Homo sapiens: one gene and its partners. The protein of the gene in region 1 purifies or fractionates together with the protein of each later gene. This does not show direct contact. Each region holds a gene or a part of one and is shown in the gene's direction. Other genes may lie near its edges.

The links.
Region 2: the proteins of SEPTIN2 (region 1) and TANK purify together in Homo sapiens (affinity purification with mass spectrometry; one large-scale study listed by BioGRID and IntAct). This does not show direct contact.
Region 3: the proteins of SEPTIN2 (region 1) and RNPEP purify together in Homo sapiens (affinity purification with mass spectrometry; one large-scale study listed by BioGRID and IntAct). This does not show direct contact.
Region 4: the proteins of SEPTIN2 (region 1) and SON fractionate together in Homo sapiens (co-fractionation; one large-scale study listed by BioGRID). This does not show direct contact.

What each region holds. Positions count from the first base shown.
Region 1 is NC_000002.12:241,346,925-241,350,424, forward strand, and holds part of SEPTIN2 (septin-2), read left to right. Parts: intron 1-1,209; coding exon 1,210-1,267; intron 1,268-3,148; coding exon 3,149-3,250; 3' UTR 3,251-3,279; intron 3,280-3,500.
Region 2 is NC_000002.12:161,201,928-161,205,427, forward strand, and holds part of TANK (TRAF family member-associated NF-kappa-B activator), read left to right. Parts: intron 1-1,559; coding exon 1,560-1,668; intron 1,669-2,747; coding exon 2,748-2,866; coding exon of another isoform or gene 2,867-2,899; exon of another isoform or gene 2,900-3,049; intron 3,050-3,500.
Region 3 is NC_000001.11:201,992,648-201,996,147, forward strand, and holds part of RNPEP (aminopeptidase B), read left to right. Parts: intron 1-3,499; coding exon 3,500-3,500. UniProt on the Homo sapiens protein: Exopeptidase which selectively removes arginine and/or lysine residues from the N-terminus of several peptide substrates including Arg(0)-Leu-enkephalin, Arg(0)-Met-enkephalin and Arg(-1)-Lys(0)-somatostatin-14.
Region 4 is NC_000021.9:33,556,538-33,560,037, forward strand, and holds part of SON (protein SON), read left to right. Parts: intron 1-618; coding exon 619-779; intron 780-1,008; coding exon of another isoform or gene 1,009-1,014; exon of another isoform or gene 1,015-2,529; intron 2,530-2,692; coding exon 2,693-2,839; intron 2,840-3,049; coding exon 3,050-3,238; intron 3,239-3,339; coding exon of another isoform or gene 3,340-3,500. UniProt on the Homo sapiens protein: RNA-binding protein that acts as a mRNA splicing cofactor by promoting efficient splicing of transcripts that possess weak splice sites.

The sequences.
Region 1 (3,500 bases):
AGCAGCTTCGATCCTCGCAAAGTCCTGCAGCCATCCTCACTCACCTTTTCTTTTTAACCATTCTAATATGTTTTTATATAAGTTTTCTGGGAGGCCAAGGCAAGTGGATCACTTGAACCCAGTAGTTTGAGACCGGCCCTGGCAACATAGGGAGACCTCGCCTCTATAAAAATTTTTTTTAAATTAGCCAGATGTGGTGGTGCATGCCTGTGGTCCCAGCTACTAGGGGGAGGATTCCTTGAGCCCAGTAGGTCCAGGCTGCAGTGAGCTATGGTCGCACCACCACGCTCCAGACTGGGCAACAGAGTGAGACCCTGTCTCAACAACAAAAGTTTCCTGTGTTGTAATTCATTAAAATTCTCACATTCTAATAATTTGATGGATTTCTAGATACATATGTTGTACACATTGAAGTCTAATTATGAGTTTGGAAATGAGACATTAAGAAAGATTTTAGAGGCAGCAAGAAAATTCCACCCTCTGGAAGCTGAGTAGGCGCTGGCCCTGAGATGGAGATTAGTGTGCTTTGCAGAGCACAGTTCTCAGGTGTGCTTGGGGAGCTTACCCTTTGCCCCTCGTTCACTCACGCAGATCCTGCTCCTTAAATGTGGTGACTACATTCGCATTAATAAAGAATAACATCTCAAAGCAAATTCTTCAGATAATACCTATTTTTGAGTGGGTAACAGCAAGTGTTGTCGCTCAAGCTTAGAGTAAGAAAAGTCTCTTGAATGTTCCATTTCATGTTGTTCGAACTTTTTAAAATCATTCTGTTCCCTTTTTATTCATTATATCTTTAATTAGAAAAATGATAGGCTGGGCGTGGTGGCTCATGCCTGTATTCCCAGCACTTTGGGAGGCCAAGGTGGGCGGATCACTTGAGGTTCAACACCAGCCTGGCCAACGTGGCAAAACCCCATCTCTACTAAACACAAAAAAAATTAGCTGGGCGTGGTAGCACGTGCCTGTAATGCCAGTTACCCAGGAGGCTAAGGTGGGAGAATTGCTTGAACCTAGGAGGTGGAGGTTGCAGTGAGCCAAGATCATGCCACTACACTCCAGCCCGTGCGACAGAGTGAGACACCATCTCAATATAAAAAGAGAAATGATAAATACATGTCATTTTAAATTTTAAAGTAGAATTTTTTGGGGGGGTAGCAAATAACTATTTGTTGCAGTGTTATGATTCTGATTTCTTTCGATTCTTAGGAAAGTGGAGAATGAGGACATGAATAAAGACCAGATCTTGCTGGAAAAAGAAGCTGAGGTAAGTAGGAAAGTACTATTGGTTGGTTGGTTGGTTGGTTGTTTTGTTTGTTTTGAGACAGAGTTTTGCACCATTGCCCAGGCTGGAGTGCAGTGGCGTGATCTCGGCTCACTGCAACCTCTGCCTCCCGGGTTCAAGTGATTCTCCTGCCTCAGCCTCCCGAGTAGCTGGGACTACAGGTGCCCGCCACCATGCCTGGCTAGTTGTTTTTGTATTTTTAGTAGAGACGGGGTTTCATCATGTTGGCCAGGCTGGTCTCGAACTCCTAACCTCAGGTGATCTGCCCACCTTGGCCTCCCAAAGTGCTGGGATTACAGGTGTGAGCCACCGTGCCCAGCCAAAAAGTACTATTCTTGTGACTGAAGGTGTTTTGTTTACATCCGTAGATATCATTGGTAATTAACTTAAAGTTTATAGTTTTTTTTTTAATTTGTTGAGGAGGATACATATAACTACTTTATTACTATATATACACATCTATATATAATAATAAACATGGATATTTACATAGCATACATGATGCTTCATATATTTAGCTGAAAGACTTTGGAGACAATTTAGTAATGTCACTGATATTTGTAAGTAGATCATAAATATGGAAATATGCTCTGTTGTAAAGGTGGCATTCAGATCTGCTGGAGTTTTGGAAGGCAAACACATTATTCAGTAAACAATAGGATCATAATGGGCTAGCCTTTTGGAAACAAAAAGAAAATACTTCTTTGGTCAAATTAATTCAATATTGATCAAATATTTAAATGTTAAAAATAACCACAAAGTCACCTGAAGAAAATTTAAATGTTTTATAATACTTTCCTGGAGGCATTTCTGAACACATACAAATCATAATGATAAGGATAAAGATGAATTAACATTTACTATTTTTGGCCAGGCACTGTGGGTTACACTTATAGTCCCAGCACTTTAGGAGGCCAAGGTGGGAGAATCACTTCATGCCAGGAGTTTAAGACCAGCTAGGGCAACAGAGTGAGACCCCCCTCGTTCTCTAGAAAAAAATTAAAAAATAATTAGCCATGCATGTCGGCATGCACCTGTAGTCCCAGCTACTCGGGAGGCTGAGGCAGAAGGATCCCCTGAGCCCAGGAGTTCAAGGATGCAGTGAGCTATGATTGTGCCACTGCAGTCTAGCCTAGGTGAAAGAGCAAGATCCCATCCCTTTAAAAAAAAAAAAATATATATATATGTATATGTATGTATATATATTATTTTTATTGTGAGGCCTTCATTGCCCTCCAGAAAAGCTGATTCATTCCCATTCCCCTTTACTTTGCATTTCTCACTGTCATCAGTCTCTTTCCCTCCTTTTAGGTTAGAAAACTTCTCATATTGGCCGGGCGCGGTGGCTCACGCTTGTAATCCCAGCACTTTGGGAGGCGGAGGCGGGTGGATCACGAGGTCAGGAGTTTGAGACCAGCCTGACCAATGTGGTGAAACCCCGTCTCTACTGAAAATACAAAAATCAGCTGGGCGTGGTGGTGTGTGCCTGTAATCCCAGCTACTCAGGAGGCTGAGGCAGGAGAATCGCTTGAACCCGGGAGGCGGAGGTAGCAGTGAGCCGAGATTGCGCCACTGCACTCCAGCCTAGGAGACAGAGTGAGACTCTGTCTTAAGAAAATTTATCATATTGTCTTATCTTTCTTTGGTTATTGTTTCTGTTTGGCTTGCATATTCGTATCATTTACTTGATTTTCTCTTTAGCTGTTGCTTTTTTTATTGATTGGTAAAAAGTCTTTATGTAATAACTCCTGTCATATTTTGGGAAGGTGTAGAAGTTGAAATTTTAGGAATCACAGAACACCCAGAAATAATGTTCAAAGACAGCAAACCTTGAAAACCTATAATGTGTGTGTGTGTTCACAGCTCCGCCGCATGCAAGAGATGATTGCAAGGATGCAGGCGCAGATGCAGATGCAGATGCAGGGCGGGGATGGCGATGGCGGGGCTCTCGGGCACCACGTGTAAGGTGATGTGCACATATCAAGAAGTCAGAGGTAGGCCCTGTTGTCCCTTAGCCTGGAAGACAGGCAGTTACTAACATTGTGTCAGCTTAAATATGACAGGTTCCTCCTTAAGCCTCATTAATATTTTGCATTTTGAAGTAACTCCATCACTAATCTTAAACAAGGAGAGATTGCTCCTGAAAAACAGAAGCCACTACTTTGCCACCTACTTTCTAGTAAAGATTTTTCATATTTTTGTCTCTTCTTTTTTT
Region 2 (3,500 bases), about 80 Mb from region 1:
AATGTAATTGGAATCCGTATTTCCTTTTTTAATTTTTCAGTGAACATATACTGAACATCTCCTATGTATAAGTTACTTAATCCATATGAATTCTGTGGGGAATGTGAAACTATGTAAGACTGCCTTTAGGCAATGTGCAAAGACAATGTACCACATGGGTTGCTTATCAGCTTTGTCAGTTATTCATATTTGGAGTGTATTACTTATAAAAGTTCACCTTTCATTTGGGAAAATGTAGTATTTAGCTCTAATTTCTTTTTTTTTTTTTTTTTTTTTTTTTGAGACAGAGTCTGGATCTGTTGCCCAGGCTGGAGTGCAGTGGTGTGATCTTGGCTCACTGCAAGCTCCGCCTCCCGGGTTCACATCATTCTCCTGCCTCAGCCTCCCAAGTAGCTGGGACTACAGGTGCCTGCCACCACGCCTGGCTAATTTTTTGTATTTTTAGTGGAGATGGGGTTTCACTGTGTTAACCAGGATGGTCTCAATCTCCTGACCTCGTGATCCACCTACCTCAGCCTCCCAAGCTTTAATTTCTTAAGCTAATTTATATTTGCTAATCTATGAACAGCTATGTAATTTATTAAAATTTTTAAGTTTATTGGTCTCTGAAAATAATAGAGCTTCACTAATTTTGAACTTTAAGAATCAGTTTAAAGTGAAATATCTAGTATCTACTGAAGATCATTCTGAGATTATTAGAACTTCATTTTCATTTTATATTTCAAGGAATTTGCAACTTAGTCATTATTTATTTATCCCTCCAGGGATAGAAATTGGTTAAAAAAAGAGTTCTCTGCTATTGTTTGGTGATACGCTTTTAAGACTGTACTAATTTGGTAATTGTGATACAACAGTTTCAAATTTGCTTGAATGTTTGCAGCATCTGTATTCCTCAGTACAAACTTGTGTCTTTTTTCATTGCTTTATTCTCACAGTCACTGCAATAACATAGCAAAATTAATGGATTAACAATATAAGGGAAACTGGCATTTAAGACACCAAAGGTCAACTATATTCTCTTAATTTCTTAAAACTTAGTGGAGAAGTTTCTGGTCAGTATAATTTTATAATTTGCATTTGTCCCTTTGATTTGTATCAACACTTCCTTAGTGTTTGTGTACTCTAAAAATAAATTTAGAAGTGTGTTTATTTGAAAGACACAAAATCTTAATTTTTTAAGTTAGTATGTATTTTTAAAGAATCACTTTAATATAGCATCTGTTGTATCATTTGTGCTTTTTTTTTTCCATTAAGGAATAAATGCTAAATTACAGTTTTGATCCTTACTGAAGGATCAGGAAATCATAGATTGAATCCTTGACTGAAATGTCTTTAAATAAGTTAATCTTTAAAACTTCTGCGGTGCTTTAAGTGTCTTGAATCACTGATGTTTGTAACAATTACAAGTACATTCCTGGAGCCAGTTTGTATCTCATAAATCACAATACCTGCAAAATGACAATGTGGGCAACTCATATCTATTTATATTATCAATGGATGGTAAATATATGTTCATGTCTATCAGTGAATATCAGGCTAACTGGTTTTTATGTCAGCAGACTGAGAACTATGAGCAGAGAATACGTGAACAACAGGAACAGCTGTCACTTCAACAGACTATTATTGACAAGCTAAAATCTCAGTTACTTCTTGTGAATTCCACTCAAGGTATGTTCATGTTAATTTTTTATGTATTTCTAGAACCTCTTGGTGAAAAGAAAGGTGTAAGTTGAGTTTTTCTATTTTATTCCTTCGTTGTTTCTCAATAGTTTTGATATTATAACTGTGGTACAGTTATATGTTATGTTTATTTAAATGAACACTTGCAGGATATGGGAAAGTGGACTTTCACATATACTATACTATATGGTAGAACTCTAAGTTTATAAAACTTCCTAAAAAGCAATTTGCCAGTAAATAGCAGCAAAAGCTTTTGAAAACATCTATGCCTTTTGAACCAAAAACTCAAGTCCTAAGACTATATCATAAGAAAATATTTGTTCAGGTACTCAAAAATATATATGCGAGGATGTGTATCACAGTATAATGTCTAATCATGGAAAGCTAGAAACAAATATTCAGTAGTTACACTGATCTATATGAATAGCTATGTAGCCAAGAAAAGTGATGATAATAGGTATTAACTTGTAAGAATATGTGGACGATATATAGCAAAATGAACAAAGCAGGATACATAAATAAGTGTTTTTTTCATTTATGCAGAAAAAGGTGATTCTTGTGTGAAGTTATATGTATAGGAAAAGAAGAATTCTGATAGAATATATAAACCAAAATATTAACTGGAATAATTCACAGGTGATAAAAATTTGGGTAGCATTTACTTTTTATTCTTTTTGGCTGTCTGCATTTTCTAATTTTCCCATAATAAGCATGGAGTCATAATACAAATAATTATCTTAAATAAGAAACGCATACCTGAAAATGTGAATATAAAAGTTGAATTGTTGCTGACAGATGCAAAGAGCATATTTCTAGTTTTCTAAATTCTGCATATTTTACATACTGCTGGCTTTTGGAGAGCAGGGGTTTTGTGTGTTTGTTTAGTGGGAAGGAAAAAATATAAATGGACAACTTGTCAAAGTAACTATTACCTAAAGAATTTTCTAAAACTCCTACCTTAAAATGTATTCTCTTTATGGTTTTGAGTTTGTATTATTTTTTGCTTTTTCAGGTGGTACCAAAAATAAGGGTTTTCTGCTAATGTCCAAGAGGTTTTTGTCTTGCAGATAACAATTATGGCTGTGTTCCTCTGCTTGAAGACAGTGAAACAAGAAAGAATAATTTGACTCTTGATCAGCCACAAGATAAAGTGATTTCAGGAATAGCAAGAGAAAAACTACCAAAGGTAGACATTGCTTCTGCAGAAAGCAGCATTTAAATGCTGATGCGTGACATAGCTTCCTCATTTTATTTTTCTGAAGTGATCTGCTGGAATTCCAAACAGAAGTTCCATATATACAAATATGTGGCTTAAATATTTCTAAATAGAAGAACTATTTTCAAGTAAAATAAAGGCTGAGGTTTTGTATTTCCTACTGACCGTTTTTCTACATCACAAGCATTTCAACAAAGAAAACATTTAACAAAGAAATAGGGCTGGACACACTGACTCACTCCTGTAATTCAAACACTTTGGGAGGCCAAGGAGGGAGGATCACTTGAGCTCAGCAGTTTGAGACCAGCCTGGGCAACATAGGGGGATCCCTATCTCTATAAAAAATGAAAAAATTAGCCACGCAGAATGGCACACGCCTGCAGTCCCAGTTACTCAGTAGGAGGATTGTTTGGGCCTAAGAAGTCAAGGCTGCTGCAGTGACCCATGATCATGACACTGCATTCCAGTTTGGGTAACAGAGTGAGACCCTATCTCTAAATAAATAAATAAATGAATTAATGAATGAATGCCACATACATATGTACATATATGTGTGTGTGTGGTGTGTGTGTGTATATATATAAACAATGAAATAAAAGATTAA
Region 3 (3,500 bases), on another chromosome or scaffold:
GTGTGTGGTTGGTTACCTCTTACCAACACCCCAAAGCCCCTTGCCCACTTCCCGCTGCTATAATGTCCCAGTCCCTTGTTATACAATTCCTTTTCTCTACTTCTATAAGTGGGTATTTGGGAGATGTAGAAAATAGTGAAACTACACAGTAATAACCACTACACCTTTCTCAATTCTTCGTGAAAAGTTGGAATTAAAGGAAAGTTGAAATAGACATGTGTGGGGTTTTCCAGAAAAATGTAACAGATGTACAGTCTTCAACTGCAGGTGTGCTTTCAAGGTTGTTCAACAGTCCTCTTATTTACCTTTCCATCTCACTCCCTTTAAGCTGTTCTAAGACTTTACTCTTCTCTTTAAGTTTGCTATCCAATCCCATCCCCTCATTTAAGCAGAAGGTCTTGTCTCCTGTTTTATTGAGAATATTAAATTCATCAGATATGATTATGTCAGTTTCCTGTCCTCCACTTAAAAAGTTATCTTCATCTGCTTTTATCCTTCCGGACTGCAACAAAGGTCCTTCCTTCTGTTTAAAGCCAAATCTCTTCCCTTACATGTCCTCTGGGACTTTGCCTCATCATTTACATCTCTCTCTTCAAATCTGCAGCCTCCCCCTCTAGACAAGCACCAGTTTCTCTAAGATCTATAGCAAAGCAAAAAACAAACTCAAGGCTGGGTGTGGTGGCTCACGCTTGTAATCCCAGCACTTTGGGAGGCCAAGGTGGGAGGATCACCAGAGGTCAGGAGTTTGAGACTAGCCTGGCCAACGTGGTGAAACCCCATCTCTCCTAAAAACACAAAAATCAGCCGGACATGGTGGTGCACACCTATAATCCCAGCTACTCAGGAGGCTGAGGCAGGAGAATCACTTGAACGTGGGAGGTGGAGGTTGCAGTGAGCCGAGATTGCACTACTGCACTCCAGCCTGGGTGACAAAGTGAGACTCCACCTCAAAAAAAAGCCAAAACAAAAAAAAAAAACAAACTCGGCCAGGTGCAGTGGCTCACGCCTGTAGTCCCAGCTACTTGGGAGGCTGAGGCAGGAGAATGGTGTGAACCCGGGAGGTGGAGCTTGCAGTGAGCCGAGATCGCGCCACTGCACTCCAGCCTGGGCAACAGAGCAAGACTCCGTCTCAACAAACAAACAAACAACTCAAAAAACCCTTAACTCCATATTCTCTTCTGGCACGACACACTGTCCTTCCCTCTGTAGCCAGGTGACTTCAGTGGCATGTATACGCACTGGCTGCACTTCTTGAAACCCCCCCACCCCACAATCATTTATTGCTACAACCCATTGGAATCCAGCCCCCCACCCTTGCCATGCCGTTGAAACTAGTAAGAGAGGCCATTCGCCTCAATACGGATAACATATGTGATGCTTTTTAGCCCTTGCCTTCATGTTCTGCTGTTTTTCTTCTGCCCCCATTGACCCTCCTCTGGCTTCTGTGACACCACCCATGCTGGTCATCAGGCCTCCTGGTTAGTCCTTTTCTCATCTCCTTCCCTGACTCCTCTGCCCAGCTCCTTGTGTGTCGATGTTGCCCAAGGCTCTGTCTTTGACCTGTTCTTTTCTTCTACATGCTTTCCTTGGAGAGCTCACCCATTCTTGTAGTTTAACATATTTTCTGTGTTCTGCAGCCAGGATGATATCTTAAAACTAAATCTGATAATGTCACTTGTTGGCTTAAAATGCTCCCATGGCTCTGAAGGTCCGGTTCTGTAACAGTGCACCTGAGGCTCTTCATGACCCGACCCTCTTGGGCATCTCATGTCCCACCTCCTGCCACTGCCTCCCTCATTGCAATCTGATCCTGTCCTCAAGTAATCCCAGACTCTCGGTGCTTCCTCACATGCATATGCAGTGTTCCATGGCTACGTCTTTGCTTTTGATATTTGGGAAGTACCTGATACTGGTTTCCCTGTATCTTTTCTTCCTGTTAGAATAGTTCCTATGCTTCAGCAAACGCAGAGGAAGTTTTCCCTCATCCGGGCCTGGACCCATCCCACTTTGCCATCAGTCTCTTTTTTTTTTTTTTTTGAAACAGAGTCTTACTCTGTCACCCAGGCTGGAGTGCGATGGTGCAATCTTGGCTCCCCGCAACCTCTGCCACCCAGGTTCAAGCGATTCTCCTGCCTCAGCCTCTCAGGTAGCTGGGATTACAGGCATACACTACCATGTCCTGCTAATTTTTTTTTTTTTTTTTTTTTTTTTTAGTAGAAACAGCCTTTCACCATGTTGGTCAGGCTGGTCTGGTACTCTTGACCTCAGGTGAACCACCCACTTCGGCCTACCGAAGTACTGGGATTACAGACATGAGCCACCAGGCCCAGCCAGTCTCATTCATATGTCTGTGTGGAAAAGCAGTTCTAAGCGCAGCCAGGGGCTCTTGGTCAAGCAGAGCCTTTGGCTGCAGGATCCCTGAGTCCATTGCATCTTTCCATTAGACTGGATCTTCTTGTTTTGTTTTTGTTTTTGTTTTTGTTTCCTCCAAGCCACCTTTGTTTCCCTATCTTTTTATTAAGAAAATTTCAAATATTTAGAAAATTGAAAGGATGATGCATTGAACACCTATAGAACCATCTACTTTGTCATATTAGTTTTATGAGTGGATTTGTTTTTATTTTTGCTAGACCATTTAAAAGCAAGTAAATCTGTGTGCCTCTCTGAAGAATAGAGGCATTCTCCCTTATAACCACAATCCCATTATTGTACCTAAGGCAGTTAACAAATTTCTATTAACATTAGTAGGTTTGGGTCGGACACAGTGGCTCATGCCTATAATCCCAGCACTTTGAGAGGCTGAGGCAGGTGAATCACTTGAGCCCAGGAGTTCAAGACCAGCCAGGGCAACATAGCGAAACCCTACCTCTACAAAAATAAAAAAATTAGCCAGGCATGATGATGTGCAACTGTAGTCCTAGCTACTGGGGTTGGGGAGCTGAGATGGAAGGATCACTTGAGCCCCAGGAGGTGGAGGTTGGATCACACCACTGTACTCTAGCCTGGGCAACAGAGCAAGAACCTGTCTTAAAAAAAAAATAAAAAAGGTTTGTCTCTTAAGGTTTTATTCAATTCCAGATTCTACTATTAGAACGCTTTCTTATCTCTCCTCTAAGTAGGGAGAAGAAAACTAACATTTACTGTATAAATGTTTGAAGGGCTTTTGTGTGTTGTCTTATTTAATCTTCACTCATTTTACAGATGAGGAAACTGAGGCTCACAGAGGTTAAATCACTTTTGCAAGATCGCATTCAGTAGTGAAGCCATAACTGCGTAGCACGGTTCCACCTCCATGAGGCTGTCTTGGGTTCTTGTTTCTCAGGTGTGGTGAGCGGTCTCTTGGATCTGTGTGGTGATCCGATCTTGCACTCCGTCACTGTGGCTGACTGCATTGTCACATTCACTTGGCGGAGGCCAATTTCCTACAGGTGCTTTCAGGATCAGGTCACTGCGATGGTCTCTAAACACCATTCTGCTTTCTCTGCTCTCTTGTCTTTAGG
Region 4 (3,500 bases), on another chromosome or scaffold:
CCCCATCTCTACTAAAAATACAAAAAATTAGATGGGTGTGGTGGCACGCGCCTGTAGTCCCAGCTACTCGGGAGGCTGAGACAGGAGAATCACTTGAACCTGGGAGGTGGAAGTTGCAGTGAGCCAAGATGGCGCCACTGCACTGCAGCCTGGGCGACAGAGTGAGACTGTCTCAAAAAAAAAAAAAAAAAGAGGTGGCACTTGAACTGGGGCTCAAAGAGTGATTTAAGGTGTCAGAAGGAGAGTAAGGTCATGATAATTTTGTGAAATGAAATAGGCTTTGGCAGGTTTATATCTTAGAGTGTGTGTAGTAGGGTGATCATTATAGTTGTGTAGTAACCTATTGTAATATTCTAATGGGAAGCTCAATATGTGGACTTAATTCCCTGAATGAGGCCACTGCTGAAAAACTTTGAGCCAGTGGTTTGATCATAGCTGTAACTTAGAGCAGAATATTGATGCCTATAGTTTTTTCCTTTTTTTTTTTCTTTTTTGTTAGATACCCAAGTTCTTCGATGGATCTAGGATGCCTTTAGTTTTGTTAGTATGTTAGACTTTTGGTAATACAAAATGTACAGTCTTTTAGGAAAACTGCAGCTTGTATTTTTCTTCTTACAGATAAGGCTCAATTACTTGAAATAGCCAAAGCTAATGCAGCTGCCATGTGTGCTAAGGCTGGTGTCCCTTTACCACCAAACCTAAAGCCTGCACCTCCACCTACTATAGAAGAGAAAGTTGCTAAAAAGTCAGGAGGAGCTACTATAGAAGAACTAACTGAGGTAAGCTAGACAGAATTTGTTTTCATTCTTAAATGGATTATTCCAGTGATGTTGACTCTGGAGCGTGCCAAAACCCGAATTGTGGGCAGAACTGATAATGGCTGGCACCGAGTGGCCAAAACCCGAAATACAGATGTGGCAGCGGCAGAAGCTCTGTTTAGCAGGCCATTATCCGGGATGGCTAAGCTCCGCTAGCTAAAAGTTACTTCCCATTACTTTTGCTTTCCAGTTTTAGAAGCCAAACTGACTGAGGAGTGGGACGGTTCGTTTGAATGGAGGAGGTGTTGAGTGAGCAACACGCAGAAGCTCGCCTACAGTTTCGTTTCCATTCACGACGCGTTCACTGATCGCCACGAGTATACTGCATATACGCAAAGACACAGACAATCTTCAGAAATGATCTTTTGCCACCGGAGCTTGGAAATTAATAAGAATAGCTGGCCATTGCCTGAAAGGAACTTCTTTCGCATCAACATTTCGGGTTTTGGCTGTTTGGTACCAGCCATTGGCGATAATGGCCGGCCATTATCAGTTCTTCCTGCGGTTCGGGTTTTGGCAGTAACATATATATTTTAAACACACTTATTTTTGTTTTTAAAAGTTTGATCTTTTCAATTGAGGCTTTTTTGGGGCTTTGTTTTATTACTATTTTTTTGGTGTGGGTGGATGGGGGGAGATGCTAAAATATTGCTGCTAGGATCCAGAAATACCACACTGTTTCATATATTGGAACTTGTTATTGGCTAGCCTTATGCCAGCCTGCCACTGTCAATATATTCTGTTCCCCTTGGTTACAAGCTTAATATACTCTTGTGTTTTTGGCGAAATGAGCTTTTTATCCTATTGTAATATTTTCAATTGATAATAGATGTCATTAAATCTACTGCTTGTATAGAGACAGGTGTACCCAAATTTACTCTTGACCTTTTTATAAAGCCAGGTAATGGAGTCTGTTCCTTTGCATCTCAGGAAGGAATTGACTTTGCTTTATGTATCAGACCTCATCAATTGCACCCTCTCCATCATGCCTTATTTTCCTAAGTTCTCCTTAAAGAAACTCAACCCACAAAACATTTATGGAGAGACATGTTGCTATCTAATCCTGTTGCAAATATTTCAGATCTTTTGTTTTGCCATACATCTGGGAAAATGTAAAGCTTCTGAATCTGTTTCCTCACTTAGATTTATTACAATATGAATTACAACTTTTTTTAAAAAATTAAGGACCTTGTAAACGCTTCTATTGCTTATTTACCTAATCCAAGCTCCTTATCCAAAATGCTAAGGACAGTTAGTATTTTGCTGTTTTCGGCCCCATCTTCAGCCTTCTTGTCCCAAGTTTCTTCTCACCTTTTTACCACCACCTGACTAGGATGACTTCTCCTTTCCCTACCAGTCTTTGTTCTTTACTATGAAAATCTGGCTTAGAACTCTTCAAGGAATATTCCTTGATTCTCTAACTCTGCCTGACTATTCTCTCTTAAGCCTTTGTTCTTTTAGCACTTATGTACTCAGTTTGTATTATATCAGTTTGCACTTGTTATTGTGTTGCTCTGTAAAAGTGTTCAATTATTTCATGTATATGTATTCCTTCTCTTGTACTAGATTGTAAGCTCCTTGAGAGCAGGGACCATGTCTTCTACTTTTTTTTTTTTTTTTTTTTTTTGTATTCCCCAGACAGTGCCCAGTACAGTGCTCTCTCTGCACATAGTAGGTGCTCAATAAATGTTGTTGACTGACTGACCAGCCAGAGTGTGTTTAAATAGTAGTTAATATGCCAAGTTACGTATCTATAACCTATCATGAATCTTGTTTAACTTTGGAAAGTTGCTATTATGTGGTTTTGATTCTAAGAAATTACATGTTCTACATAAAGCGTAAGATTTATCTTTTGTTTGTTTTTACTTTTAAAGAAATGTAAACAGATCGCACAGAGTAAAGAAGATGATGATGTAATAGTGAATAAACCTCATGTTTCGGATGAAGAGGAAGAAGAACCTCCTTTTTATCATCATCCCTTTAAACTCAGTGAACCCAAACCTATTTTTTTCAATCTGAATGTGAGTATTAGTGCTTATGGATTGGTAAAACAGTGTAACTTGTGGAACTATTTAAATAAAACCCAAATCGAATTTAGTTTATTAATTTTTGTTTTAAATACTGTGAGAAATAATGGATAATATCATTTCCTTCAGATTATGTAGAAAATCTCAAACCATTTAATGTAGATATCATATTGAGCTTTAATTAAGAAACACTTTATTTTTTAGATTGCTGCAGCAAAACCAACTCCACCAAAAAGCCAGGTAACATTAACAAAAGAATTCCCTGTATCATCTGGATCTCAACATCGGAAAAAAGAAGCGGATAGTGTTTATGGAGAATGGGTTCCTGTGGAGAAAAATGGTGAAGAAAACAAAGATGATGATAATGTTTTCAGCAGCAATTTGCCCTCAGAGGTAAGTAGGAGGAATATTATGTATTTTTCCTTTTTTATACCTGAATCTGCCATTTCATTGTTATGTTATGTCTGATTTGGATTCTGTTTCACTCTTCTTAGGGCCGGGTTAAACGGCAGGGCCGGGTTAGACGACAGATGAAACAACCCGCAGCTTCTCATTTGACAGTAACTCGATGCAATTCACTTTGTGGAACCAAGCCACAAAGTGAAAAGCATCGAATTGCAGAGAACAGTGTTATCACATCCCTACCCAACATTGG